7 linked regions of the Homo sapiens genome follow. The protein of the gene in region 3 interacts with the protein of the main gene of each other region in a pairwise test. Each region holds a gene or a part of one and is shown on either strand. Other genes may lie near its edges. The genes, in order: CCNB1IP1, SAXO4, PRKAA2, KIFC3, ZMYND12, WFS1 and ANAPC11.

What was found.
Region 1: the proteins of PRKAA2 (region 3) and CCNB1IP1 interact in binary tests that used the Homo sapiens proteins (3 or more experiments, as listed by UniProt).
Region 2: the proteins of PRKAA2 (region 3) and SAXO4 interact in binary tests that used the Homo sapiens proteins (3 or more experiments, as listed by UniProt).
Region 4: the proteins of PRKAA2 (region 3) and KIFC3 interact in binary tests that used the Homo sapiens proteins (3 or more experiments, as listed by UniProt).
Region 5: the proteins of PRKAA2 (region 3) and ZMYND12 interact in binary tests that used the Homo sapiens proteins (3 or more experiments, as listed by UniProt).
Region 6: the proteins of PRKAA2 (region 3) and WFS1 interact in binary tests that used the Homo sapiens proteins (3 or more experiments, as listed by UniProt).
Region 7: the proteins of PRKAA2 (region 3) and ANAPC11 interact in binary tests that used the Homo sapiens proteins (3 or more experiments, as listed by UniProt).

Annotation. Positions count from the first base shown.
Region 1 is NC_000014.9:20,326,780-20,330,279, reverse strand, and holds part of CCNB1IP1 (E3 ubiquitin-protein ligase CCNB1IP1), read left to right. Parts: intron 1-906; 5' UTR 907-1,106; intron 1,107-3,486; 5' UTR 3,487-3,500. UniProt on the Homo sapiens protein: Ubiquitin E3 ligase that acts as a limiting factor for crossing-over during meiosis: required during zygonema to limit the colocalization of RNF212 with MutS-gamma-associated recombination sites and thereby establish early differentiation of crossover and non-crossover sites.
Region 2 is NC_000011.10:61,487,620-61,491,119, reverse strand, and holds the end of SAXO4 (stabilizer of axonemal microtubules 4), read right to left. Parts: intron 1,339-3,500; coding exon 1,174-1,338; intron 620-1,173; coding exon 550-619; 3' UTR 536-549; intron 307-535; 3' UTR 192-306; downstream 1-191.
Region 3 is NC_000001.11:56,648,314-56,651,813, forward strand, and holds part of PRKAA2 (5'-AMP-activated protein kinase catalytic subunit alpha-2), read left to right. Parts: intron 1-3,500. UniProt on the Homo sapiens protein: Catalytic subunit of AMP-activated protein kinase (AMPK), an energy sensor protein kinase that plays a key role in regulating cellular energy metabolism.
Region 4 is NC_000016.10:57,795,992-57,799,491, reverse strand, and holds part of KIFC3 (kinesin-like protein KIFC3), read left to right. Parts: intron 1-1,209; coding exon of another isoform or gene 1,210-1,248; coding exon 1,249-1,420; exon of another isoform or gene 1,421-1,787; intron 1,788-3,500. UniProt on the Homo sapiens protein: Minus-end microtubule-dependent motor protein. Involved in apically targeted transport. Required for zonula adherens maintenance.
Region 5 is NC_000001.11:42,432,023-42,435,522, reverse strand, and holds part of ZMYND12 (zinc finger MYND domain-containing protein 12), read left to right. Parts: intron 1-137; coding exon 138-249; intron 250-2,234; coding exon 2,235-2,380; intron 2,381-3,500. UniProt on the Homo sapiens protein: Required for sperm flagellum function and male fertility.
Region 6 is NC_000004.12:6,300,850-6,303,765, forward strand, and holds the end of WFS1 (wolframin), read left to right. Parts: coding exon 1-1,619; 3' UTR 1,620-2,416; downstream 2,417-2,916. UniProt on the Homo sapiens protein: Participates in the regulation of cellular Ca(2+) homeostasis, at least partly, by modulating the filling state of the endoplasmic reticulum Ca(2+) store.
Region 7 is NC_000017.11:81,894,723-81,897,738, reverse strand, and holds part of ANAPC11 (anaphase-promoting complex subunit 11), read right to left. Parts: intron 1-3,016. UniProt on the Homo sapiens protein: Together with the cullin protein ANAPC2, constitutes the catalytic component of the anaphase promoting complex/cyclosome (APC/C), a cell cycle-regulated E3 ubiquitin ligase that controls progression through mitosis and the G1 phase of the cell cycle.

The sequences.
Region 1 (3,500 bases), on a different chromosome or scaffold from region 3:
TAGCTCCCTACGCAAGATTTAGCTCCCAACGCAAGATTTAGCTCCCACTTATAAGTGAGAACATGCAATACTTGGTTTTCTGTTTTTGCATAAATTCGTTTAGGATAATGGCCCCCAGCAGCATCCAGCAGCTCCAGTTGCTGCAAAGGACATGTTTTTTGTTTTTTTTTTTTTTATGGCTGTGGAAAAGTGTGAAATTTTTAGGCAGAATATTTGCCTTTCTACTCACTAGCTGGTTGAGCTTGGGCAAGACATAGAAATAACATATTAAACATTTAACTCCATGCCAGCTACAGTGCAAAATGTATTTATTACCTCAGTCTTCACGGAAGTTTTAAGAGGTATGTAGTATTTGTCCTCATTTTACAGAGGGGACAGCTGAAGTTTAGAGAAGTTGCATAACTTACCCATGGGCACAGCAAATACATGAGAGAGCCAGGATTAAAATCTAGTTTAGTATGATTTCAAAATCTATTATTTTAGGGAATATTAATTAGTGCAGCTATGATGGAAAACAGTATGGAAATTTCTCAAAAAATTAAAAATAGAACTACCATATAATCCAGAAATCCCATTTCTGGGTATATTCAAAGGAAATAAAACTAGTATGTCAGAGATACCTATACTCCCATGTTCATTGCATCATTATTCACAAAAGCCAAGATACGGAATTGACCTAAGGGTCCATCAACGGATGAATGGATAAAGCAAATATTATACATATGTACAGTGGAATACTATTCTGCCTTAAAAAGGAAGGAAACTGATAGTGAGTGGGAAATAAAACTTGGAGTCTGTTCTGATAGCAGTACCTTATATAACTATCTCTAAAGGAAAACTATACCAAGCTATTAGTCTAGTATTTACTTCCTATGAACAAAATTTTGTGTGTTCATTTTGTTTCAGGTTGAAGATGAAATCCACTGAGGAGGGAAGTCCAGCACCCTGTGTGCCAGTCCAGAACTGGCCCATCTGTAGACCCCCTGAAAATCATATGGGCTTGGATTTGGATATTCTCAACAGAAAGGGTTAAAGGCTGATGGTACCTAAAGCCTGGTACTTGAATTTTGATCAAGATAAGCTGCCTTAAGTTCTCTTCATTACACGTATGTGTGTCTTTCCTATCTAAAAAGCCTAGCTTAGAGATTCGAGTTACCATTGTATCCTATAATGCTAGGTGGCACTGAGTAAATTGGAATAGAGTCAAAAGGAATGGTGATGAAATCTTAACACGAGTATCTGCTGATTTAGTATCAATTTGTAGTTTGTATTAGGCCTTCATGAAGCATCTGTTCACACATATAAAATGTACCTTTTGGCTATGAACACTAGTACTTTGAAGTGATTACTGCCCACAGTCAACAAAATGCTGGGATCATTGATTGTTTATGGAGCATTTGCACAATACTTAGTAAATACGAAATGTCCTTTGTATGGTGGAATGACACTTGTTGAAGCATGCATGACTAGAATCCTGCAGGGAAGCATCACACATTGGGAAAGGTATCACATATTTAACATCAGGATTTATGTGCCAGGCTTTGTGCTATGTGTCAAAACAAAAAGACCAGGCCTCTTGCAATCTGGGTTTTGTTTGTGAGTTGAGATTAATAGAGAAGTTGTTCCTTTCAACCTATAATTATTATCCTGTAAGAATACTTAGATCAAGTAGTTTTTTTTTTAATTTCCTTTTTAAAAAAATTTATTTTAGGTTTGGAGAGATCAAGGAGTTTTAAGGTAGACATTGTTAAAACTGGAGAAACCTTTCACACCATGTCTTGCTTCTTGTCTACATTCTCTTAGTTAACCTTGCATCCTGCTGATCTGAAAACATTTTACATAGTTAAAGCTAAGTATAGGGCAAGGAAGGAGTAAAATAACATTTTGATCATATCTGTCTGAGATATTTAAAATGCTTCAGTTTCTTTCCAACCTACTGAGCTAGCATGTCACTGCATTACATTTTAAAGCAAACCTTTAGCTCTGTGTATTTCCTGTAGGAAGTACCATGGTGAATTGAAGAGTATGGAGTTTTGATGGAATTGAATTTAAATCCTAGCTCTTACTAGTTAGGTGACCTTAGGAAATTTATGTAATTTTTCTGAGCCTCAATTTTCCTGTAAATAGGGGGTTGTAAAATTTAAATGATACAAATTCTATACAGCTTGACAGATAGGATTTCTAAAGAATGATAGCCACTGCTTTCTTTTCTGTCAGCTTATTTTAGACCCATTCTTAAAGGCACTGATGTCCAATGGAGCCTTCTGTTATGATGGAAATGCTCTATGTTTGTACTGCCAATTTAGCTATTGAGTAATGAAAATGTGACTAGGGTAATGGGAGAAATTTAATTTTTAACTCTAATTAAGTGGTTACTTATTGGACATGCAACTTTAAGGTCCACTTGTGACCCACTCTTTTTGCTTCATGAAGCCTTCCTTGACCAATCCTACTTCTTTTCTTAACCTTACTTGCTTTCTACTACTTATTTGGTGGTATGTTAATTTCTGTGAGTCTTGTCTTTCTGGCTAGATTGTATCTGAGGTTATGGATTTTTAAATCTCCACACTGCTGCATGAAAAAGAACATAATGATGAAAGTATAACTGCAGTATTTTTAGCTAACAAGTTTTAGATGATCATTACAAGTAAATACAAAAAATTTTCTAGCTAGTAATTAGGTGAAGAGTAGGGAATAGTGTGAAGGTTGCCTGCAAAGATGAACTGCGTATCTAGTATGTATTTGACCTGAAAGTTCAGATGACACGCAAATGCTGGAAGAGGAAATTAAAGCAAGACTCTTTCTTACACTGCCATCTTGTGGCAGACTTGGGTTACAAATGTTACTAATTCAATTTTCCTATATAAAGGGAAGATTTTCTTCAGATTATTTTGACAAAGGATTACGAAGAGTAAAGGTTAAATACAATCCGGCATTGGCTCAAATGAAATTGAAACATGCTTTGAAAAAACTGACTATTTTGGATTATTTTCTCAGTTATCTGAATCTTAAAAGTTCTTGACTCCTTCCTCTTGCATAACTGTTTTCTTACTGTGAGGTTGTTGACCTTTATAGCCTTTCAGAAGTTGGTTAGACTATTGTGCAGTTTTATCCAAGCTTGTAAATTTATACAAAATTAAGCTTGTGTAGGGGTCCTGCTCGGTTTTTTTTTGTTGTTGTTGTTAAATTTTTTTTGTTTTGTTCGAGACGGGGTCTTACTCTGTTGCCTAGGCTGGAGTACAGTGGCACGATCACAGCTCACTGTAACCTTGAACTCCTGATCCTGCCCTATTTGATATTGAGCTTGGGCATTTGGTGACATTCTCCAAATAGATGAGTCAATAATTTATATTAATGAATGGAGAGTTAAATAAAGGATGAACGGTTACTCTAAATTTTCTTGTGACTTGGTATAGAACATGCTGGTGTGAGTTGTCATGTAATCATAACCTTTGTGAATTTATTTATGTTTTTTAAATTTTCCAGAAATGATCCTAGAT
Region 2 (3,500 bases), on a different chromosome or scaffold from region 3:
TAGAGGACCCCTTTACAGGACAAGAAACTGAGCGTGGAGAATGAAGTGCCTATCCATCGTGTCATGGTTCCTCAGAGGTTCCAGCCGAGCCCTTCCGACTCCAAATCTGGCCCTAGCTCCTCCACCCCTGCACCCACCGCCCCAGCTCACCCCTCCTTTTTCCAGCCACCCTGATAGTGATGTCACACTTCTCTGCTTCAATGCTCTTTATTTCATTAGGAAAGTAGCTGGGCAGGGGTGTTCCCCTGGGGGATGGAGTGGGGGTACAGACAGTAGCCTGGCTCCTGTCCCCTAGGATTGACAAACCTGTAGAGGAGAAGCAGAGGCGAGGCCTGAGCAAGGGGCTCTGGGGTGGTTCTGTGTGCTTGCCTGGCAGAGAAGGGGTTCTGAGAGGCCCCCTGATCTGTCACCCCCCACTTGGAAGGGGGGTCCCCAGGCAGGACTTGCTTAACCCAGGGCTTGAGAGGCAGGGCTGGCCCATAACGGTTGCCCACACAACCAGAGCAGCTGAGTGTGGGGATCCCCAGCCCCTTACCAAGGGCTCAGGGCTCAGCTGTGTGCCACGCAGCGGCTGCTGTGAGGTGTGTTCTGGTAGAAGGGGTCAGCTGAGGTCAGGGTTCTGCAGGGAGGCAAGAGGAGAGTGTTGGGGGTGTTGGCAGGCAGGGCATGGACCTTGTCTTCTTGTCTTCTGCCTGACCCTCCCTGAGAGAGCATAGCCAGGGTTCAGCCAGGGCAGCCAAGCCACAAACATTCTTTGCCTGCCAACTCTGGGCCATTGTTGATATAAATGTAATTTCTGAGGAATTGAATTGAGCAGAAAGGAGCTGAGTGAGGCCGAACCACAGTCCATTCATCTCTGGATCCGTCCCCGCATCCCCCTCTGGATCTGAACCACCCCAGAGCCCCTTGCTCAGATCCTCCCCATCCAGTCCACCGGGCCTGGGGAACAGGGGCAGGAGAGGGAGGAGGAGCCATCTGAGGGAGGGGTCACTGGAAGGAGAGGAGGGGAGGAGCCTGTGCTAGCAGGAGAAGGGACACCAGAGCCAGCCAGAGGAGATGGGCCTCTCATAGGAATGAACCGGACTGACAGCAAGAGAGGAGAGGAAGGGAAAGGCCTGGCACACGGCCTGGATGAGGGGTAGGGAGAAAGAACAGAGCTGGGGGTGGTGCCACCTTCCCACGTGGGGATGCAGGTGCCGCAGGCTCTCCATGGGGTTGGGGGTGGCCTCCATGCAGCTGACCGGCTGGCTGAGGGCGTAGCCTCCTGGCATCTGGGGCTGGATGCCACCTCGAGTCCAGCCTTCCTGGTCTAGACCCTTGGGGATGTTCTCAAAGTACCTGGAGGAGAGGAGGGGTCCTTGGCTGGAAGCTGGACTCTGCCCACCTCTGCAACCCCTGCTGCCCTTCTCCATCGACCCTCAGATCGCCCAGCCTCCCCACCTTTGCTCATGCTGTCCTCGTCTAGCTCTCCCTAAGCCCACGTCCACTGGGGGAACTCTTACTCAAAAAGCCTGCCCTCCCCTCCACCTGACGCTGAAACACTCTTTGGAGTGTTAAAGGACAGTTTCAGTGATGCCCCTGTCCCTGGCCTGCCAGTACCTTGGGGTGGGGACCCCGTCTCATCCACTTCTCTAGGCACTTAACTTTCCTTCCATTTCATTTCCATTTCCTTCCATTTCACTGAGCACAGCCAGGTCCAGAGGGTGCAAAGACAAGTAAGAAGGGGGTCCCACCCTTGAACTTATGAAGAGGGGGTGCAGACAGATCAATGCAGGAATCAGTGATGACAATCCCGGGGCTCTGCGCGCACCAGGAAGCACCAGCAAGCGTGCCTGACAGCCAGCAGGAGCTCAGGACACAACAGGACACGACAGGCTGGAAGGACCCAGCAGACAGGACTGGAGCTGGTCTCTGCCAGAGCCACAGGAGGAGGTGTTTGCCTAAGAAGGGGTCAGAACATCGTTGCCCCTCCCCCACCTCCGTGGGAACTGGAGCGGCCACTGTGCTGAGTCTGCTGTGCGGGCGGAAGCTCTGCTCCTCCCCTCTGAGCCTCAGGGTTTAGGCCAGAGGACAACAAACGGCCCTTCCAGCTCAGACTCTCTGTTGCTCCTCCAGGACACCGCCCTCCCCTCTTTTCAGTCTCAGTTCAAACGTCACCTGCTCAAGGCCACCGATTTCAAATCCGACCCGTGCGCACTGCAGCCCTCGCGATCCCTTTCTCTTTGCGCATTACCTAACAGCTCTCGCTAACTGGCTGCAGCCACATGCATGTCTCCTCCCATGCAGAGGTCTGAGCTCCGTAGGGCAGGAGCTGCACACACATTCCCAGGGCCTGGAGCAGGGCTTGGCACCCAGTCAGGGCTCAGTTAAAGTCTATTCCATGAATGGATTCTGGGAGGTATCCCGGAGCAGGGGGTGGGGCAGGGGGAGGAGACAGAGAGGTGGCAGGGACACCTTGAAGGACCAGGAGTTGGAGAGGAAGCAGGGTGGACACAGGTGACTGATGTTGTGAGGAAAGCTTGCGCTTCCTGGCTCGGAGTTTGTCCTAAGAATTATACTTCCTGGAGGCGGGCAGATCACGAGGTCAGGAGATCAAGACCATCCTGGCTAACACAGTGAAACCCTGTCTCTACTAAAAATACAAAAATGTAGCCGGGCGTGGTGGCAGGCGCCTGTAGTCCCAGCTACTCGGGAGGCTGAGGCAGGAGAATGGCGTGAACCCGGGAGGCGGGGTTTGCAGTGAGCCGAGATCGCACCACTGCACTCCAGCCTGGACGACAGAGAGAGACTCCATCTTAAAAAAAAAAAAAAAAAAAAAGGAATTGTACTTCTTGGCAGGACACGGTGGCTCATGCCTGTTATCCCAGCACTTTGGGAGGCCAAAGCAGGCAGATCACTTGAGGTCAGGAGTTCAAGACCAGCCGGGCCAACATGGCGAAACCCCATCTCTACTAAAAATACAAAAATTAGCTGGGCATGGTGGCACATGCCTGTAATCCCAGCTATTTAGGAGGGTGAGACAGGAGGATCACTTGAACCCATGAGGCGAAGGTTGCGGTGAGCTGAGATCACGCCATTGCACTCCAGCCTGGGCGACAGAGTGAAACTCCATCTCAAAAAAAAAAAAAAAAGAAGAAGAAGAATTACACTTCCTTTATACCACTCCTATAATGCTTTCCCCACCCAGTCCTGGCCCCAGGAGGCTTCCCCATGGCTCTGGGGCCACCTCCTTCCTGGAAGCCCTCCCTGATGCCCAGGACAGTCACTCCTAACCCAGGGAATGCACAGCACAGAATTTACCTTCTGAGGGAGCATCGAGCCCACCAACCATTGGCTGGATGGAATGTCTTAGCAGATGCTGCTGCTCCAGACTCCCTCGCACTGCCCTGTTCTTTCCATGCCCACCAGCCTGGCCACCAATGCCCTGCATCTCTGTGGGAAAGCTACCCTTGGGATGCTAGAAGCTGCTTTGCCTGAGCAAGGAGGCACCTGGGCTTTAA
Region 3 (3,500 bases):
CAATATGTCATCTTTTGTGTCGAGCTTCTTTAACAATGCTTTTGAGATTCATGCATGACATAGCATGTGCCATTAATTTGTTCCTTTTTATAGTTGAATAATATTCCATTGTGTGGATATGCCACATTTTGTCTATACAAAACCAGTTGATGGTCATGGTTTCAAGTTTTGGGCTATTATAAATAATGGCACTACGAATATTCACATGTAAGTCTTTGTGTGGACATATGTTTTCATACACCTTGGGTAAATAACTAGAAGTAGAATTGCTGGGTCATATCGTAGTTTTATGTTTTACTTTTTGAGAAACTGCAACACTTTCCCAAAATGGTCACACCATTTTATAACATTCCCATCAAAGATGTATGAAAGTTCCCTTTTCTGAGTATCTTTGCCAACATTTGTTATTGTCTGCCTGATTTATTATAGCCATTCTAGTGGGTGCGAAATAGTATCTCATTGAGGCATTAATTTTGCGTTTCCCTAAGGACTAATGATGTTGAACATTGTCTCACGTAATTACTAGTCATTTATGTATTTTCATTGATGGAATGTCTGTTTATATCTCTTGCTTATTTTCTAATTGGGTTACTTGTCATCTTATAAGTTGAGTTGTGAGGATTCTTTGTAAATTGTGGATACAGATCCTTTAATGGATATATTTTGCAAATATTTTCTTCCAGTCTGTTGTGTCTTTTCATTTTCTTGTGTCTTTTGAAGTATAAAAGTTTTGAATTTTCATGAGGTCCAATTTATTAGTTTTTAAAATTATTTTATGGACTATGCTCTTGATGTCATAGGCAAGAAATCTTTGCCTAGCCCAAGTCTCAAAGATTTTCTTTTATGTTTTCTTGTAAATATTTTATTATTTTAGCCCTGATGTTTAACTATGTGATCTATTTTGAGTTAATTCTTATGTATGGTGTGAGATGAGGTTGTAAGGTTAACTTTTTCCATGTGGATAACCAATTGTCTCAGCAGTTTTTGTTGAATGCAGGTGCATTTTTAATTGTTGTAGATTTTAGACATTGCAAAATGAATTTCTACTAAAAAAGCTAATAGGAGATGATGTAATTTTAAAAGCTTGGCCAGGTGTGGTGGTCCATGCCTGTAATCCTAGCACTTTGGGTGACCAAGGCAGGAGGATCCCTTGAGCCCAGGGGTTCAAGACCAGCCTGGGCAGCATAGGGAGACCCTGTCTTTGATTGATTGATTGATTGATAGAAAGATAGATAGATAGATAGATAGTTAGATAAATGGTTATAAAAACATGGAAATGGAGAAGTAAGGAACATTTTATGTGCTTTCTCTCTTGACTTTTTTCCTTTTTCTTATTTGTTTATTAATTAGTTTTTTTTAGGGACTATGTTGACCAGGCTGTTCTCAAACTTGTGGCCTTAAGCAGTCTATCTGCCTCAGCCTCACAGTGTTGGGATTACAAATGTGTCCCACCATGCCCAACTTTGACTGTTATGCTAATTATAGATTTAGAAATTTTAGGCCAGGCACGGCGGCTCACGCCTGTAATCCCAGCACTTTGGGAGGCCGAGGTAGGTGGATCACTTGAGGTCAGGAGTTTGAGAACAACCTGGCTAACATGGTGAAACCTCATCTCTACTAAAAATACAAAAATTAGCCAGCTGTGATGGTGCGCGCCTGTAATCCCAGCTACTTGGGAAGCTGAGGCAGGAGAATCACTTGGACCCGGGAGGCGGAAGTTGCAGTGGGCCGAGATTGTGCCACTGCACTCCAGCCTGGGTGACAGAGCGAGACTCCGTCTTAAAAAAAAAAAGAAATAAAGAAATTTTAACTTCAGTTGTTGATATATCAATTTATGGACCAAAGTTAGGGACAAAAAGCAAAAATTGAAAATGGAATAGTTTTAACAGCAGTAGTTTTAATTTGTTTTTTAAAAGTATATGGAAATCTTTGTATTTGTTAATAAAGCCTTATTTAAAATGTTTTAAATTTTGTCCTTCATTAGTCTATTGTATTATCAGGTTGCTGAGGGACTGTTTTTGGAAACAGATTATATGGGCTGACAGAGTTTAAAAGTAATGCTTTTTATCTATTTAAAATTTTTCTCTATATTGACTGTTTAGGCTCTCACTCTGGGTAGGGTAAAACTGTTAGAGAGTTCTTGTAATTAGACTTGTTCATTTCTTATCTAACTTCTCTAAAGGTGATAGAAATTCTAGAAGAATGGTCCTGTTGTTTGTGTTATATAAAGACTGATTGAAGAAACAAAATTATAGTGCTAATTATTTATTTAAAAAGAAGCCTGCATTTTCAAGATGAGTAGTAGTATATATGTGGTTTATGATTTAAACAAATTTTTTTCAACATTTTACTCCAGAAATATGTTTACCCATATGTGGTTTATGAAATAAATATTCTTCATTGGAATTGTACACCAAGGGATACTTAGGTTCTTTCTTGTCGGCAAAGTCTCACGAAGAAGTTACCCTTTCCATTTTTCAAATAGTTACATGACTGGCCTACAGACTGCTTTCAATAAATTAAGTAAATATTTTACTAATTCCCCACTTGTTTTTGAGATAACAGGAAGGATAAACCAAAACTTAAACAAACAAACAAAAAGTGTTACCTTATTTTGAAATGTAAATATCAAGTCCTAAATGATAAATCAAATTTCACACAACTGTCCCATCAATTGATGGAGCTAAAAGTTATGTCTGTGGTATTTTGGTCCCTTGCTTGACTTGTGTGCTAGTGTGGAAGCCCTGAACAATTTAACTCCCTGGGCCTTGTTTTCTTCCCCTCCTAAAGGATAACACTGGAGTAGCGAATCTGTGAGGTCCTTTACAATGCTATCATTAAACCGATTTTTAAAAGATTTAACTCCAAAAAAATGGGTATATTTAATTATTCATCCTGGTTAATGAAAATTTGAGTTCCTGAGTCTGAAATGTAGATGTAATGTAGAACAGGGGAAAAGGAAACATATTTTCAATACTTCAGTGATAAAAGGTACAATTTGATTAAGTTGTTACTATATTCTAATCACTGTATGATATATGCACTTGATTTTTTTTTATTCCCAGAGTAATCCTCTAAGTTTGGTATTATCTCCATTTAACAAATGAAGAAATTGAGAATCAGATACTTTAAGTAACTTGTCCAAAGTTCCAGTGCTATTAAGTGGTAGAGCTAGCAATCAAATTCAGGGTTCTCAGACTGCAAAGTCTCTGCTCTATGGACTGTAAAGTCAAAATGCCTAGTATGTTCTGAGTTTCAAACCTACAAGGATATAATTTTCTATGTCTGCTCATATTTATCAGAATTGAGAAAATAAGATTTAAATGTCTTTCAGTCCATATTTAGAGATAAATAACGTTTTTTGAAATGCCATATATAGATGATTAAAATTTATATTTTTACTTTTCCAACATTTACTTGGATGCCTCAATCTTTCATTTCTTATTATAAAATGTGCTGAATTCTACCAGTTTTAACCCATGTTTATTAGAAATACTAGT
Region 4 (3,500 bases), on a different chromosome or scaffold from region 3:
TGGGCCCATAGTGGGTCAGGGGAGGTGGACACCCTTCAAATAGCTATCTTCACTTCCTGGCAGGAAGTGGCCACTGCAGTGACGGATGGGGAGAGTAGTCGACAGCCCAGGAAGCTCCACTAGGAAGTCCTTCAGTTACCCCCACCTCAATCTTAAAACCCCATGTTGCCTCTCCAAGCTGACTTCGCTTCTTCTGTAAATGACATTACTGTCTGAGTCTGGGACTGTAGCATGATCACCTTAAATGTCCTCAAGGTTGCTTTGCACACAGTAGGTGCTCAATAAAGACTTCTGCAGGGAATACCTGAGCTCTGTTCATTTGTTCAGTTCATGAGGGACCTATCCCTGACTGAAGCTTTCTATCCCTGACCAATGCTCTCTGCCCCCCTCCATTCCCCACACCACCTGGTGCCTGGCTCGCACCTGCCGCCTCCAGTAGCCTGCTCAGACTGTGAGGGTTTTTTTGAAGTGTTTATCTCCCTTCTGACTGGGAGTTTTCAGGCCTCATCTCTTCTGATCCAAAAGGACCCCTGGCAGATGCCTGGCACCCAGTAGGCATTATTAAATGAAGACTGAATGAATCTTTGTATCTCAACACCCATACGGTGCCTGCCACATGCTAGGCACAGAGCGCAGGCTAGTCGAATACATGAATGAGAACTTACTGTATATAGACTTCACTTGTCATTGGCCACAGTCAGGGCCCTTTTGAGTCCCTCCTCAGTGAAATGTTAATATTCAGAGCATTCACTGCTCTGCTGACAGGCCTTAGGCAGAGCAGCCTGAAGCCTAAGGGTTAAGCATGTGGTTAAGTGCAATTAGAAAATTAGATGTCTTGGAGGAAAAGGATTAGACTTACGGAGATGCTGCTGACTCGCGGTGCCTCCTCTGTGTGGGGCTAGGACCTGGCTTGTCCTCAGGCTCCAGGCTCAGCTGGGAAGGGCTCAGGTGTGGGGTCTCAGGCACAGCTGATATGCAACTTTCGCACTTCGGAGCCTCCGTATTCGGAAACAAATACCCCCAAAAGGCAGCAGGCCCCATTTCATCCTGCGAGCCCTAGGGTCTTTGGGGGACAGTGCAGTTGGAGCTGCTGCGCTGGGTAACCAGCGACCGGTGGGGCGTAGACCCTTCCAGATGGCTGGCTCTGCCCGAGGTGCAGTTGTGCTGGTCCACGGTCTTCAAGCTTATCTCCCCTTGTTCTCTCCGCAGGCTGCCTGGTGCCCCGAGGAGGCTGCTGAGCCCCAGGCCATGGTCCCCTCTCGCAGGACGTGGAACCTGGGAGCCACGCCCTCGCTGCGGGGCCTGTGGAGAGTGGGCCGGGCCCCGGAGCCCGAGCCGGGGATGGCTCGCCCCGCCCCAGCCCCAGCCAGCCCGGCCGCCCGCCCTTTCCCACACACCGGCCCGGGGAGGTTGAGAACTGGTGAGTCCGCATTTTTAAAATGCCTCTTTATTTCCCTTCCTTCCTCCAGATACCAGAGATGAGACTGAGGTTTCTCACCGGTTCCTAAGCCCAGTCAGAGCTGTCAGGTAATTACAGGGTAACCGACAGCCCAGAGCCAGGCGGGCGTGGAGCCGGAGCGTCAGTCTCGCCGGGCGCTCCTTCCCTGCGCCCCTGTCTGGAAAAGAGGAGACCTGGAAGCCGGGTTAAACTTTAACACGGGTCGGGCACAGAGCAGGGGGAATCAGCTGCATTCCCTCTGGCCAAGCTGGTCAGAGCTCTGCGGGCTGCCGTCCTTGGCCAAGAGCGTGTGGGCTAGCTCCGGTCTCTGCCCAGGCTGGTAAACAAGGTAGGTGAAGTGGCTGCCTGGGCACCAAGCGCCGCTGACACTTGATCCTGCCTGGGCTGGCCCCTGGACGGCGTTGGGAGTGGACCGAGGCTGCTCGGGAACGTGGCCTGGCGGGGCTTGGGGTCCATGTGCTCATTTCAGGTGCTTCTGTAGAGACCCTGACAGCAGGTGGGCAGAGGTCCCAGAGTCTTGGCCCCCACTGTACCCCCCGGGGAGCTGTCAGTGCCAGCTCGCCTTTCTGGGTCATGTCCCCCGGTGCTGCGAAAGTCAAGAAGTGAGCGGCTTCTCTGATTCAGGGCCGGGACTGGATTGGCGGGGCCGCGGAGCTGTCCATGACCCTCTCCCGAGGCGTGGGCAGGTCGCCCTGGTAGTGTGGGGGAGAGAGGGCTCTCCAGGCAAGGTGCCTTCAGGGGTCTGCTCCCTGTCCCTCGTGACCTACAGGAACAGGGTCTAGACTGCCAGCCTGTGAGAGCTAGCAGAGTCCCTCTGGGCCATCAGGTCCAAGCCCCTTGGTGCACAGAAGGGGAAACTGAGGCCCAGAGAGGGCACACAGCAAACTCCTGTTCACCCCTCTCTCCCACCACATTTGTGCTGTCAGTGGCAGCTGGACTGATGCCTTCCGAGGTCTCTCTGCTTCTATGGTTGTCTGGGGCTGGCTGCTCCCAAGCAGCACAGCCAGGCTGGGGATGACCCAGGGGCCTGGGGAAAAGCCTGGGCTTTTGGGCCAGGTAGCCCAGTTGTCTGAAAGGGGCAGAGGATGGCCTCTACCCCATAAGGTTGTCCTAAGTATTACAAATGTAATATGAATGAGTATTGCTTTTCCGGTAAAACAAAAGCATTTTCCCTTAGAAAACTTAAAACACATAGAAAAATATCAAAAAGGAAATAAAAATCACAAGTTAGTCACTGAACATTTTATGTAGTGCCTTCTAGTCGTGTGTGTCTGTGTGTGTGTGTGCATGCATATAGGTCTTTGAAATATTGTGTTATCTCAGCTTTCTAACCTGAAGGAAAAAATTGGGTATTATGAAGATTATATGACCATACAGACTTTTATCCACTTAAAAAATTTAAGACAAAGGTCAGATGAAATCCTGTGTGTGAAATGCAAGCGCCGTGCCTGCCACTGGGCCTCAGCCAGCTCAGCTGCCCCAGGCCCCTCTGAGTCCCCCGACCAACCCCCATATTGCCACCCTGAGAATTGGCTGGCAGAGGGTTGATTAGCACATGGGATTTGAATCCTGGCTCCCTGTGACCCTGGGCACATTGTTAACCCTTCCAGGCTTCCGGTTCTTTGCCTGTCAGGTGGGGAGAATGCCCCCCACCTCCCTGGGGAGTTTTGAGGAGCTGATGGCTACTGTAGTCCTATTGGCCTGTACTGTGGGCCCTTTCTGTGTGCCTGGCACTACATGGGCACCACGTGTATTTCATCCCATTTGATCCTTATCACAGGGCTGTGAAGTTGTCCCCATTTTATTGACAAGCAAACTGAGGACCAAGAAGGTGTGTAAAGGCTGGGTGCTGTGGCTCACGCCTGTAATCCTAGCACTTTGGGAGGCCAAGGCGGGCAGATCACTTGAGGTTAGGAGTTCAAGACCAGCCTGGCCAACATGGTGAAACTCTGTGTCTGCTAAAAATACAAAAATTAGTTGGGCTGGTGGTGCGCACCTGTAATCCCAGCTACTCGGGAGGCTGAGGTATAAGAATTGCTTG
Region 5 (3,500 bases), about 14 Mb from region 3:
TCTGCCTCCAGGCACAGTAAGAGAGAGAACCTCCAGGTTGTCCAGAAGCCCGGCCAAATGCGCTACTCTCCTCACCTGCCTGGTCCGACGGCTGAGGTCTGGCCTGCTTGTTGTATTACCATCTCTTTTCCCAACAGGTCTCTGAGATCTGGCATGCATATTTGAACAATCACTATCAAGTCCTCTCACAGGCTCACATCCAACAAATGGATTTACTGGGCAAACTATTTGAGAATGACACTGGCTTGGGTAAGTGGCAGTTTTCCCTGAAGGGAGAGCAGTGACTTCATCTCACCCAATACACAGACCTTGTCCCTAAGAGGGAAAGCAGCTGTCCCTGTCATGAAGCACACCATTGCCACCTTCCCCATGTTGCTGATGGAGAAAACTGAGACACGGGGATCAAAGAGATTTTACCAGTGTTGGGAAGAATTCAGATCCCTATCATCACACATAGCCATTCGGGGGTTACTAAGGGACAGATTTAGAGGGAAAAAAAGACCACATCAAAGCCCCCTGTGATTTCTGCAGAGCATCCATTTCTATGTTATCCCTCCAGGGCAGCAGTCCCAATCTCTCCCTGGCACCAGGGACCCGTTTCATGGAAGACAATTTTTCCATGGACTGGGGGGCGTGGGAGGAATGGTTTCAGGAGAATTCAAGTGCATTACATTTATTGTGTACTATGTTTTTATTATTATTAATATATTGTAATATATAATGAAATAATTATACCATGCATCATAATGTAGAATCAGTGGGAGCCCTGAGCTTGTTTTCCTGCAACTAGATGGTCCCATCTGGGAGTGATGGGTGACAGTGACAGATCATCAGGCATTAGATTCTCATAAGGAGTGTACATCCTAGATCCTTTGCATGCACAGTTCACAATAGGGTTCACGCTCCTAAGAGAATCTGATGCTGCTGCTGAACTGACAGGAGGTGGAGCTCAGGTGGTAATGCAAGCAATGGGGAGTGGCTGTAAATACAGATGAAGCTTTACTCGCCCCTACCACCCCTGCTCACCACCTGCTGTGCAGCCCGATTCCTAACAGGCCACAAAACAGTTCTGGTCCATGGCCTGGGGGTTGGGGACTCTTGCTCCAGGACACGTAAGCCAAGGTAGACTCTACACAGAAGGTGCATTGCTGATTTCTTCTGGTGCCTTAACTTCATGCTTTACTGAACAGTGAGCTTCTCAGTGGCAGGGCCCAGTTGGATTAAACTGTATTCCCCGGGCCAGCAAAGGGCTAAGTGTTGAATAGTACCGTACAGCATCATGCCCTCAGAGACAATGAAAAGACACAGAGGATCTAGTTTCTGCTCAAAAGAGACATACAGTGCAGTTGGTGATATAGAACCTATAGGCAATAACAAAAGAACATTCCTGTGAGTACAAATTATGTTACAAGATGAGTCCCAGAATGAAGAGGTGAGGACAGCTGGGTGGTGTTGAAGAAGGAAGACTCTTTGGAGGAGAGGTTTTGAGCTAAAGTTTAAAAAATTAATAACTTTATTGAATTTTCTCTCATTATGTAAATAGTTCATGTTATAGCTGAAAACTTGGAAATCATAGATATCCAAAGATAGCCAACCTTAACATGATGGTGTATATCCTTTTCGTCTTTTTCTCTAAGCTTAGTACTTGTATAAGTGCTTTTAAATGCATGTAGTGACTTCTCAGTAAATGATGACTAAAGTAGGACCAAAAACTACTGGGGAAAATAGTAAACAGACTCTCAGAGGGAAGCATGAAGGTTGTTGCTTACGCATCTATGGCCTAGACGAGAAGAGTTAAGCTGCTGCAGCTGCAAGAAGTCCCTTCCCCCAGTTCTCTCCTCTCAGCTGTAGAGTGGAATCTGAGTTGGACCCAAGGAATCTGCCTGTGGCAGATTATCTGTGTTTGTAAGCCCAAGAGATCTAGAGTTCAGGACTCCGAAAGAGAGAAACCTTAGCAACTTTGGGACCTGTGGGAGTGAGCCTATTTTTAGGCTACTCTGATAATGGCATGCTAAGCAAAGCTGGAAAGCGGTCTGAAACTCCTGCTTCGGAGCTTCCTGCTTTGCACCTGGAGGGAGTCCTCTAGGTAAAAAACTTGCTGTAATTGGTGCTATTTCCACCAGTGCCCTTGGGAAGGCTTCAGCAGACCAGGCGCTTTAACAGCTGAGTGCTTTTGATGAGGGCAGACTCAGTTGCCAAGAGCCTGTTTTTTCTTTCTTCCCCTTCCAATGCAGATGAAGCCCAAGAAGCAGAAGCCATTCGCATCCTGACTTCAATCTTGAACATTCGAGAATCTACATCTGACAAAGCCCCCCAAAAAACCATCTTTGTTCTGAAGATCCTGGTCATGTTTTACTACCTGATGATGAATTCTTCAAAGGCAAGTTTCCCTAAAAAAGCAACACGTCTAAAATGAAGGTAGAAATTCAACTAGTTGAACTCAAAATTTGTGTTTTGCCCAATTCCAATAGCTTTTGCCCTCAGAGCAAGCCCTCACTCCAAAGAGGTTCAGATGCTCACGATGTTTCTCCTGTGTTGAGTCTAGCCTGCATAATGGAAATTGGATTGTCTTCTTCCCCCGAGGGTTCCCAGTCTTGCATAGATAAAGAGAGTCTGAGGCAGTGCTGGGAAGCCTGCAGGGCAGGAAGGCTCTGGGGAGCCTTGGATGGATGAAGTAGCCGCTCTAACTCCACTCAGTTACTGAGTTCCCTGTTGCTGCGGGGATTCAGGCAGAAATGCATTGCCATGAAATGATTCAAAAAGTAACTTTTTGAGTACTTTTACCTACCAGTTATTGGCCTAAACCCTTTACATAATTATCATACTTAATGCTTACACCAACATTAATGAGGTAGCTATTTTATTATCTCTACTTTACAAACAAGGAAACTGAGGCACCGAGAGGGTCAATTCTTTGCCCAATGTCTTACAGACAGCAAGTAGCATATCTCAGGTTTATTGACTTATTGGTTGATTCTCTCATTCATTCAAACATTTATTGAAAATCTACCATTTGTAAAGCACTAATCTAGGGACTGGGGATACAGTGGTGATCCATACGTTTCCTATCTCTATGGCACTGGTGTTTTTTGGAGGAGTGGAAATAAACATATGTATGTGTAATATAATTTCAGATAGTAGAAACTGTTATAAAGAAAACTAGCCAGGCACAGTGTCTCATGACTGTATTCCCAGTACTTTGGGAGGCTGAGGAGGGATGATTGCTTATGTCCCGGAGTTCAAGACCAGCCTGGGCAACATAATGAGACCCACTCTCTACTAAAAATAAAAATAAAAAGATCAGCCGGGCTAGAGGTGTGCACATGTAGTCCCAGCCACTCGGGAGGCTGAGATAAGAGGATTACTTGAGCCCAGGAGATTGAGGCTGCAGTGAGCCGTGCTTGTGCCTCTGCACTCTAGCCTGGGTGACAGAGCAAGATCCTGTCTCAAAAAAAAAAAAAAGAAAAAGAAAAAGAAAAGAAGAAGAAGAAGAAGAAAAA
Region 6 (2,916 bases), on a different chromosome or scaffold from region 3:
TGTCCTTCATCTCCATGGTGATCTGCACCCTCAAGGTGTTCCAGGACAGCAAGGCCTGGGAGAACTTCCGCACCCTCACCGACCTGCTGCTGCGCTTCGAGCCCAACCTGGATGTGGAGCAGGCCGAGGTCAACTTCGGCTGGAACCACCTGGAGCCCTATGCCCATTTCCTGCTCTCTGTCTTCTTCGTCATCTTCTCCTTCCCCATCGCCAGCAAGGACTGCATCCCCTGCTCGGAGCTGGCTGTCATCACCGGCTTCTTTACCGTGACCAGCTACCTGAGCCTGAGCACCCATGCAGAGCCCTACACGCGCAGGGCCCTGGCCACCGAGGTCACCGCCGGCCTGCTATCGCTGCTGCCCTCCATGCCCTTGAATTGGCCCTACCTGAAGGTCCTTGGCCAGACCTTCATCACCGTGCCTGTCGGCCACCTGGTCGTCCTCAACGTCAGCGTCCCGTGCCTGCTCTATGTCTACCTGCTCTATCTCTTCTTCCGCATGGCACAGCTGAGGAATTTCAAGGGCACCTACTGCTACCTTGTGCCCTACCTGGTGTGCTTCATGTGGTGTGAGCTCTCCGTGGTCATCCTGCTGGAGTCCACCGGCCTGGGGCTGCTCCGCGCCTCCATCGGCTACTTCCTCTTCCTCTTTGCCCTCCCCATCCTGGTGGCCGGCCTGGCCCTGGTGGGCGTGCTGCAGTTCGCCCGGTGGTTCACGTCTCTGGAGCTCACCAAGATCGCAGTCACCGTGGCGGTCTGTAGTGTGCCCCTGCTGTTGCGCTGGTGGACCAAGGCCAGCTTCTCTGTGGTGGGGATGGTGAAGTCCCTGACGCGGAGCTCCATGGTCAAGCTCATCCTGGTGTGGCTCACGGCCATCGTGCTGTTCTGCTGGTTCTATGTGTACCGCTCAGAGGGCATGAAGGTCTACAACTCCACACTGACCTGGCAGCAGTATGGTGCGCTGTGCGGGCCACGCGCCTGGAAGGAGACCAACATGGCGCGCACCCAGATCCTCTGCAGCCACCTGGAGGGCCACAGGGTCACGTGGACCGGCCGCTTCAAGTACGTCCGCGTGACTGACATCGACAACAGCGCCGAGTCTGCCATCAACATGCTCCCGTTCTTCATCGGCGACTGGATGCGCTGCCTCTACGGCGAGGCCTACCCTGCCTGCAGCCCTGGCAACACCTCCACGGCCGAGGAGGAGCTCTGTCGCCTTAAGCTGCTGGCCAAGCACCCCTGCCACATCAAGAAGTTCGACCGCTACAAGTTTGAGATTACCGTGGGCATGCCATTCAGCAGCGGCGCTGACGGCTCGCGCAGCCGCGAGGAGGACGACGTCACCAAGGACATCGTGCTGCGGGCCAGCAGCGAGTTCAAGAGCGTGCTGCTCAGCCTGCGCCAGGGCAGCCTCATCGAGTTCAGCACCATCCTGGAGGGCCGCCTGGGCAGCAAGTGGCCTGTCTTCGAGCTCAAGGCCATCAGCTGCCTCAACTGCATGGCCCAGCTCTCACCCACCAGGCGGCACGTGAAGATCGAGCACGACTGGCGCAGCACCGTGCATGGCGCCGTGAAGTTCGCCTTCGACTTCTTTTTCTTCCCATTCCTGTCGGCGGCCTGAGGATGGTCCGCCACGAGGAGCTTCCAGTGCATGTTGCCATGAGGCCTTTCCCCAGTGTGGCCCCAGCCCGACAGGCATGCACCAGTGCCGCCTGTGCCCACGTGTGCAGACTGTGGCTGCAGAGACCTTGCGACCATGTGTAGATTGCGTGGACCCCGACAAAGGGAAGGCTGCTGTGTAGCTCTGTCCACTCTGAATACCAAGTGTGTTGGGAATTGCATGCCATCTCCACCCTGAGCCTGACCTTTCTGAGTGACATGGGTGTGCCAGGCTAGACTAGGAGGTTCCGGTGTCTGGAAAAGCACTTTACAGATGAGATTCCCTCTCCTCCCCCACCTTCAAGCACCCTGTTCCCTCTTTCTTTCTTTTGTGTTGGATTTGTTTAAAAACCAAATAAGCATCTGTGTAACCTCCACAGTAGCATTTCTTATTTGTTTGGTCACTGCTACACCTTAGCAGCTCTTCCCCTTTCCTGGGGGATGTGCACGGCAGCTTGAGCCTGTCACGTGGTCAAGGCCCGGCCCCATCAGAGGCTGGGGGAGGCGGCACATTGGCAGTGTGTCACACTGAGCTGGGCACCACAGGCTGCCTCATGACCCTCCTGTCCAGCAGGTAGTGGGTGAATGTGTGAAGGTCTTGCCTGAATCCATCAGGACTTGGGAAACAGAGAACCCTGTGGGGGCGGCTGTGGGGGAGGTCCCTGCCAGTGTTTAGAAGAGCCTGACTGTGTTCAGTGCCTTGGAGCAGAAAGCCAGGGTCCTGAGTGGCTGAAATAAAAGCCTCTGGTGGAACCTGCAGCGCTTTCCTTCCTTTCTTTACCGAAAAGAAGTCTTTCTTGTACGTGCGTGAGAATCAGCAGAGCCTGCACTCCTGTTGAATGAAATGCAAGTGCAATTTGAGTTATAAAAGAGCAAGGTTGATGTTTCACAGTTGATGGCTTCCTGCCACAGCGAGACCCTGGCTTCATCTCCAGCTGGAGGGGCCCCTGGGGCATCTGCCGTAACTGTGGGGTGGCCTGGGCATGGGCTGCCTGTGCAGAGAGACCTGTGCTGAAGGTGACCATGGAGTGTCAGCCCAGCCATCTTCAGATCTTACTGAGCGGAAAGTGCACGGTCATAATTATCTTTGAATTCCAGTTACCCATGAAGTGGAGCCTACAGGGTGATTGATGGCGTGGGGGCTGCTGTCCATGCGGGAGTGTGTTGTGAAACCACCTCCTGTGTTCCCTAACCTGCAGTGATGACCCCATGGGATTATAATCAGAACTTAGTCATTTGGGGGCACCCGAGCAGCTGCA
Region 7 (3,016 bases), on a different chromosome or scaffold from region 3:
GCCAAGGCAGGCAGATCCCTTGAGCCCAGGAGTTCAAGACTAGCCTTGGCAACATAGCAAAACCCTGTCTCTACAAAAAATAAAAAAATAAAAAATTAGCCAGGCATTGTGGAGCATGCCTGTGGTCCCAGCTACTTGAGAGGTGGAGGTGGGAGGATCACTTGAGCTGAGGAATTGAAGGCTACAGTGAGCTATGATTTTGCCACACTGCACTGCCGCCTGGGTGACAGCAAGACCCTGTCTCAAAAAAAAAAAATTGTACTAAGATTCAGTCATCTCAATTTCACCTTAAGAAGCAAAGACAGGGGCGGGTGCAGTGGCTCACACCTGTAATCCTGGTACTTTGGGAGGCCGAGGTGGACGGATCACCTGAGGTCAGGAGTTTTAAGACCAGCCCGGCCAACATGGTGAAACCCTGTCTCTGCTAAAAATACAACAAGGGCTGGGCGCAGTGGCTCATGCCTGTAATCCCAGCACTTTGGGAGGCTGAGGTGGGCGGATCACGAGGTCAAGAGATCGAGACCATCCTGGCCAACATGGTGAAACCCCATTTCTGTTAAAACTACAAAAATTAGCTGGGCATGGCGGCGAGCGCCTGTAGTCCCAGCTATTCGGAAAGCTGAGGCAGGAGAATCACTTGAACTAGGGAGGCGGAAGTTGCAGTGAGCCAAGATCGTGCCACTGCACTCCAGCCCTGGTGACAGAGTGAGACTCTGTCTCGAAAATAAATAAATAAATAAAAATAAAAATACAACAAATTAGCTGGCTGTGGTGGTGCATGCCTGTAATCCCAGCTACTTGGGAGGCTGAGGCCGGAGAATCCTTTGAACTCAGAAGGGTGGGGGTTGCGGTGAGCTGAGATGGTGCCATTGCACTCCAGTCTGAGCAACAGGGCAAGACTCTATCTCAAAAAAAAAAAAAAAAAAAAAAAAAAAAAAAAGCAAAGGAGGCAGATGAGTGTGGTGGTATGCTACTTGGGAGGCTGAGACAGTAGGATGGCTGGAGCCCAGGAGTTCACGTCCAGCTTGGGCAACACAGTGAGACCCTGTCAATCAATATGGGCATGCACCTGGCCCTACAAAAATACGCCTGGTTACTTGGGGTAGTGAGTAGCTTCTCGGTCCTCCCCATTCCCCACTGTCCTCTCCATTCCCCACTGTCCTCTGGGGAGTTCTTCTTGTCCTCCCTGGGCAAAACCTTGACCCTTGCTTCTGCTTTACGCTCATTTCGGTCTCATGAAAAACCATTTCGCTGATGCAAAACTCTGCTTTCAACCTAAACATAATCAAACATTTCCACTTTTTTTCTTTTTTTTTGAGATGGAGTTTCACTCTTGTTGCCCAGGCTGGAGTGCAATGGTGCGATCTTGGCTCACCACAACATCTGCCTCCCAGGTTCAAGCGATTCTTTTGCCTCAGCCTCCTGAGTAGCTGGGATTACAGGCATGCACCACCATGCCCGGCTACTTTTTTGTATTTTTAGTAGAGACGGGATTTTACCATGTTGGCCAGGCTGGTCTCAAACTCCTGACCTCAGGTGATCCATCCACCTCGGCCTCCCAAAGTGCTGGGATTACAGGCACCTGCCACCATGCCCGGCTAATTTTTTTGGATTTTTAGTAGAGTCGGGGTTTTGCCATGTTGGCCAGGCTGGTCTCGAACACCTGGCCTGAAGCAATCCGCCTGCCTTGGCCTCCCAAAGTGGTGGGATTACAGGTGTGAGCCACTGCGCCTGGCCTATGCCATTCAATTTTGAGAATTTTCAAATAAAAAGTTTAAACTAATCTTTTTTTTGTTTGTTTTTTGAGATGGAGTCTTGCTCTTGGCTCACTGCAACCCCCGTCTCCCAGGCTCAAGAGATTCTCCTGCCTCAGCCTCCCCAGTAGCTGGGATTACAGGCACACGCCACACACCCAGCTAATTTTTGTATTTTTAGTAGAGATGGCGTTTCACTATGTTGGCCAGGATGGTCTCAATCTCCTGACCTTGAGATCCATCCACTTCAGCCTCCCACAGTGCTGGGATGACAAGTGTGGGCCACCACACCCTGCCTTGATCTCTTGACCCTGTGATCTGCCTACCTTGGCCTCCCACAGTGCTAGGATGACAGGTGTGAGCCACCGTGCCGGCCTCCATCTCTTGACCTTGTGATCCGCCCGCCTCGGCCTCCCACAGTGCTGGAATAACAGGCGTGGGCCGCCATGCCGGCCTCCATCTCTTGACCTTGTGATCTGCCCGCCCAGACTCTAATCTCTTTTTAATCCCACGTATTTCACAGCTGAGTTTCATCCTATGGAGTCTGTGACAGGATCTTTATATAAACATGGGTACCAACCACCTGGCTTTTTTTCTATCAACTTTTCTTCATGAGATGAAAATGAAAATGTTGGGGGGGGCACGGTGGTTCGCGCCTGTAATCCCATCCCTTTGGGAGGCTGAGGCGGGTGGATCACCTGAGGTTGACAGTTCGAGACCAGCCTAACATGGAGAAAGCCTGTCTCTACTAAAAAATACAAAATTAGCCGGGTGTAGTGGCACATGCCTGTGATCCCAGGTACTTGGAAGGCTGAGGCAGGAGAATCGCTTGAGCCCAGGAGGCGGAGGTTGCAGTGAGCCGAGATCGCGCCATTGCACTCCAGCCTGGGCAACAAGAGTGAAACTCCATCTCAAAAAAAAAAAAAAAAAAAAAGAAAAGAAAGAAAGAAAAGAAAATAAAAATGTGGGCCAGGCAAAGTGGCTCACACCTGTAATCCCAGCACTTTGGAAGGCTGAAGCGGGCAGGTCACCTGAGGTCAGGAGTTCAAGGCCAGCCTAGCCAACAAGGCAAAACCCCGTCTCTACTAAAAATAAAAAAATTAGCCCAGCATGGTGGCACATGCCTGTAATCCCAGCTGCTTGGAAGGCTGAGGCAGGAGAACCGTTTGAACCCGGGAGGCAGAGGTTGCGGCAAGCCGAGATCGCGCCATTGCACTCCAGCCTGGGAAACAAGATCGAAACTCGGTCTCAAAAAAAAAAAA